2 separate regions of the Homo sapiens genome follow, and region 2 is linked to region 1. Evidence: fine-mapped expression QTL. A gene starts in region 1. The other region holds a variant in brackets. All regions are shown on one strand. Distances are from middle to middle.

Evidence for each region. PIP is the estimated chance that this variant, and not a neighbour inherited with it, causes the effect.
Region 2: its variant is fine-mapped to the expression of HMGCLL1 in prefrontal cortex (BrainSeq, PIP 0.95). The same link has a PIP of 0.9 or more in cerebellar hemisphere and cerebral cortex.

What each region holds. Positions count from the first base shown.
Region 1 is chr6:55,578,119-55,581,040 of GRCh38, forward strand. HMGCLL1 (3-hydroxy-3-methylglutaryl-CoA lyase like 1) reads right to left here and starts at 1,074. Exons shown (of 9, transcript NM_001042406.2): 1 at 830-1,074. The coding sequence starts at 937.
Region 2 is chr6:55,432,779-55,435,700 of GRCh38, forward strand. HMGCLL1 (3-hydroxy-3-methylglutaryl-CoA lyase like 1) reads right to left here. Exons shown (of 9, transcript NM_001042406.2): 9 at 1,595-2,922. The coding sequence ends at 2,884. Among named protein-coding and RNA genes, the nearest start is that of GFRAL, 110 kb to the left of the region's middle. The variant T/G (reference allele first, on the strand shown) is at 1,644.

The DNA.
Region 1 (2,922 bases):
GAATCAGAAATAATCTTGTATCCAGCACCTGTAATTTAACAAGAAGTCCTCACAGTGCTCCTCCTTTATTCCATGTTTCAACATTTTCATAACAATTATCAGTTATTTAATATTTTGTGGAATTTTAGATTTTCAAGTTTTTTAAGGAAAAAGTTAATTTCTTTATACACCTTTTCTTTATTTATCTGACACTGGTTAAGAGTGCATTAAATCATAAGTATATGAATAATATTAAGTTGCCTATTGTCTTAACATGCCCTTTCAGGAACAATGTGGGAATAAATTTTAGTCTGAAATTGCTGTTATTTACACTTTCTTTCAAGTTTGTTGAAGCACAAATACATTTGGGATAATTAATGTTCTGATGGATTATTTCATCCTACTATGTCTTCTTAACCTTCTACCGGTTTCATTCCTTTTTCTGCCTCACATTGTGACAAATTTGTAGTCTTTGTTACACAGTACAAGGAGCACTGAGAATAAGGGCGGTATCCTTGAAGGAATACCTATGAATACAAATTGTATTACGTAATGCATCCCTTTCCAGGAAAACACAGAGAAGGAATTCTTTTCTTTAGGCGACCAGCAAATGGTCACAGGCAGGGATTTTGCAGGGTCTGATCTGTAGAGGCGGGTCGATACATTCACCGAAGAGAGATAACGGGAAACCGTTTAAGGGGTGCGGCCTAACACGACAGAACTGCTGCGGGAAGGGTCCTGGGGTGAGGAGGTGACATAAAGGGAGGAGGGCACCAAGAGGTTGCAGGGAGAGAGGCTGGCTGTCAGTGTGCGCATGAGGGTGGGGACACCCTGGGCCGCGAGGTGGTACCTGCGCGGGGTCGAGCGCCCCTGCCACTGAATCCCCGATCCAGAGATGCTCCCGGAGAAGCTGCTGGTAGCTGAGGCAGTGCTTCACCGCGGATGGCACATTCCCCATGGCGGAGCCTGGGGCGGCAGTCGGCGAGGGGAGGGAGACTGGAGGAGGATGAGGGGCGGGCACCGCGCTGGGAAACTGCGCCAGCTCGGGAGCGCGCCCCTCCGGTGCACTGGCTGTGAGGACCAGAGCTGTTCTGCGCACTGCGGCGGCGCCGAGAGGGCGGGGAGTGGGGCGTGGCAGGTGGCCGCGCCTGGGGCAGCGGGTGCACGGGGCACCTGCGGGAATCGACAGAAATGCCGAGCACCTGAACAGGAGAGAAAGGAGCTGAGCCAGAGGATGTCCAGGGGTGTCTCATTTTCCGCACTACACTGAGCGCCCAGGGCTGACTGTATCTTAACGTGCCCACCTACTTCTCACCTGGCATAGATCAGGTGTAGAAGAAAAGGGGTCTAAAATAAAAGGAAGGGGCGTGAGTGTTTATGTTGATGAGTTCGTTCATTCCCAGCTGCAGCCTTGGGTGCTCAAGTGTAGATTTGCCTACCGTTGAGCTCACGGAGTTTATGCTTTATAACAATAAGCTCTATTTAAAAATGTTTTTGAGGCAATCAGCAAGGTTAAAACATATCCAACAGTCTAATGAAAAGGAAAAGATAGTCTTAAATTAGGTTACATGTCAGAGGTACTCTCAGAGGTACGTTCCTAAATGAGAGGTAAGCTGTAAGTTGGTGCTGCGGTTAAGCGCTGAAATGGAACTGCGTGTTTAAAAGTCTCATGGCACAAAATTATTAAAGCCCTAAGGACTAGATTTATCCAAACGGAAAATTCTATACAAGTTCTTAGGATATTAGAATTGGAGACATTTTTAGTGGAAGAGAGGGTTTGAAAAAATAGCCTTCGAGCAGACCACCGGCCTACCTTCCCCCCCTCACTTTCACATGTAAACTTACGTGTATTGTCACACCCTAATAATCTTCGCAGTGGGTTCAGTGGTTTGCAGCTAAAATGACATAGTCATCAAGAATAGTCTCGTGCAGGATACCTAGGGTCTTCCGGAGACCCAGCCAGGGTGTCCATGGCCAGGAATACGCATCAGCCCTGGTGGCTGATGGAGCAAATGTAAACCAGGAGCCAACCGATGCACACCGTAGTATAAACACACAGAAGAAATTTACCATTCAAAGTCAAACCATCCTTACCACTTGTGTGTTGCATGGGTGGGGGTTTGGGGGGTGGGCAGTGAGACTTCCACAGGTAATAAAAATAAATGGGTTAAGGGAGGAAAAAGACAAAGAGTGGAAGAGAAATCGTGTAGATCCTTCGGTAAAACTGCACTAGAAAGGGCAAAGAGGATGAGGAGGTCATAGTCTTCTTCTCACAGTTAACCAAGGATTTTTTTTTTCTTTTTTCTTTCTTTTTTTTTTTTTTTTTTTTTTTTTTTGAGACGGAGTCTCGCTCTGTCGCCCAGGCTGGAGTGCAGTGGCGCGATGTCGGCTCACTGAAAGCTTCTCCCCCCAGGTTCACGCCATTCTCCTGCCTCGGCCTCCCCAGCTGCTGGGACTACAGGCGCCGGCCGCCACGCCAGGCTAATTTTTTGTATTTTTAGTAGAGACGGGGTTTCACCGCGTTAGCCAGGATGGTCTCGATCTCCTGACCTCGTGGTCTGACCTCCTCGGCCTCCCAAAGTGCTGGGATTACAGGGGTCAGCCACCGCGCCCAGCCGGATGTTTAACCTGGAGAACATTCCCTGAACTGCTAAAGTGAAGTTATCCAATTCCTGGATGCGCTTAAAACTCTGTAAAGCACCAAAACTCCGGTTGTTATTTACCTAAGCATGACTATCATATAGGTGTACATTCATAGAGCTAAATCTATTAGCTGTACCAGCAGAGCTCAGCTGTTAGTTATTGTTCCACTGCAAGTGAAATGGACGGTACTGGTTATATCTATGCTTACTATCATTTTTCTCTCTATATTTAAATTCTGCAACAGGGAACATGATATTTAAAAATAATTTTAAAAGATCCAACTTCAACAACAATAATTTA
Region 2 (2,922 bases), 150 kb before region 1:
CACTTTTACTTTATTCTGCTTAAAAAGATATGTATTTCCCTTACAATTTTGGTTTATCCAACATTTCTTAACAACCTCTTTGGTGTATACAGGCATTCATTCCTTAATTCAATCATTCAACATATAAACTGGAACAAATAAACCTTAAAAATCTATTAAGGGCTCAGGAAATATATATGTATATATTCAGAAAACAGAGTTCATGCAGAATAGTTTCCTTCCTTCAATTCCCAAATGTCTGAATTAAACCCGTTTCTATTCTTCACTCTAACATTTATTGGTATTTAGTGCTAGACCCTAGCACTATGTTCTGGGCACTGCGGAACTAAGAGTGAAGAAGATAGCAAACCCCTTGCTCTCAGGTGTATATATTCTGTTGGAAAAAGAAAGAATAAACAAACAAGAAGGTAAAAATTCTATAATTAATAATTAAATGAGTTGATGTGAGAGAATGTAACAGGACTTACTTTAAACTGAGTTGTCCAGGAAGATTCATTAAGGAGGTAAAATTTATGCTGAGACCTCAATGACAAGAGGGAGCCAAACATGCCCAGGGAAAGAGCCAGGGAAACAGACACAGAAAAAAACTAAGGTAAAGGACCTGAGATGGATCTGAGTGTGCCTTGTTCCAAAAACAGAGAAGACAGTGGGGTAGACTACAGTGCACAAAGTGAAAAATGGTACAAGAATTTTGAATATATATGAAGCTCGAGATGCCTGTTGGATACCCAAGAGGAGGTATCAAATAGGCAAGTGCCTCTCAAAGTTAATCTGCATATGAGTCACGTAAGGATCTTGTTTAAAATGCAAACTGTGATGCAATGGGTATGGAGTGAAGGCTCAGATTCTATTTCTCAAAAGGTCCCAGGGGATTATCCTGCTGGTCTTGGACCACATGTTGAGTTGCAAGAATGAAGGCAACTGTGCATTTGTGAGTCTGCAGTCAAACATAAGAAGGAAGAGGCCAAAAGATAAATAAGGTGGAGAAAATAAAACCAGAAAAGAAACTCTCTTAAACTATCAAAGGGATTTAGATGGTTTGTGTGGAGAAAGGATACCAAATACCTACAACAAGCTTTCTCATACTAAATGTGATTCAGTAGCATCAAGGTATTCATGGAAGTGACTCAGTACACTGATATGGATGCTATGTAACTGTGCTGTAGACTGTACTTGGAGTTTCTGACTACTTGCTCTGTCTTTCAAAGTCCATGGTTTTCATTTCAAAACAGCAATGCTTTCCCATCATCCCCTTAGTTGTTACTATGGGCAGTTTGTAACAAGAGATGCTTTTCCAAATATCTGAAATTAGGAACAGCATAGCATTGTAAGAGATAGGAAGTCAGTCTCCTCAGAATATGGGGTACGTATCCAGTTGTACACGCTAATTGCAGGTGTCCCATTACTGCCAGTGTGCAGGGTCATGTGCTTCGTGAAGAGAGATGCACAGGGAGATGTAACTGAAAAAGATTCATAACCAGCTTTGATTTTTGTCTGCTCCCTGCATTTCCCCCAACCCACAAACATTAAGCCCAAAACAGAGAATTGCTCTCAGTATTCCTGCTCCAGAACCATGCAACATAATCAGTACTTCTTACTTTCTTGAATTTATTTTTATTTCAATGGTTTTAATGAATATTTCC[T/G]AGAAAGTTCACAATACTCATTTTTATGTTTCAATTTATATTCAAATTTACTCAAAGATAATATCACCCGGTATTATTAGAGAAGTCTCTCTAAATACTAGAACTGACATTTCAGATCCATTTGTAATAATACTGCCCCCATAAAATATGCATAGGTTACAGAAGTTTATCTTGAATAGTCCTCCTGCTCCTCATCCCTGACTTTGATATATTACATCTTGCAATTTCTGGCAATCAATTCTAAGACAATAGACAAAATTTCAGCCACTTCAACTTCTAAAATAACCACTAAAAAATACACCAAAAAATAATGTGGGTAAGCAAAGCACCATGAATAAAAGGAAAATGGGTATTTCATTAACCTAAAATTATCTTAATATTCTTAGGATCACAATATTTCCTTGGGCAATTTGAAAGTGATCTGAAAATTATAAAGGTAGATTATGATACATGTATCAACCTATTCTTATCACTGCAATTTAGACATCAGGACAAAAAAAAATAGCTTACAATTTCTCAATAGTTGAGTAACACCATGCTGGTTTTTACTATAACTGATGACAGGTAAAGTGTGGTAAACTGGATGCATGTAACAAACATGGGAGGTCGTAATATGTTTCCAGGATATGGCATCTTGCCATTGGCCACAGCCTCTTGGAACCAGATAAAGTCACTGAAATAGTTAACAGATGTTAGCCATACTTGAAATATAAAAGTTCTATTGCTAAAATTATGTAGGGTCAGATGGAGATTTGGCTTTTGGTCCATAACATAACTGACTTGGCAAATGAGTAGTTGAGATCCAGAGGCATAATGTATAATATTGAGGCCACACACTCTGCATACTATGCAGGAGCTCATAAACTACTGACAATATGTACACAGTGTTAAGCCTGCTTGATTAAGTATTAACACAGTATTTGATACTTGGGGAAATACGAAGTCAATTTTCCCATCTACTAAATTAAAAAGTTATTTCTATGAGAGCAAAAGAAACTTTTTTCCAAGTTCAAAATTATGACAAGTTTTATTATTTATCCTCAGCTTGCAATTTACCTGATGACTGATATTGCATTTTGTTGACTTAATCTATCCAGTTATAATCTTTTTGAAAAGGATCTCTTTTTTCCCACTCTTGTCCATTACTTCACATATCAGAGCAAGTTGGCATTAATGATTTTCAGATGAGTATTGTAGCTGAAATTGATCTTCTCAACGGTACGTCATAAATCCATTCAAGTCAAGCATTGAAGGAGGCTTGTGCTACTTTAGAGTTTGT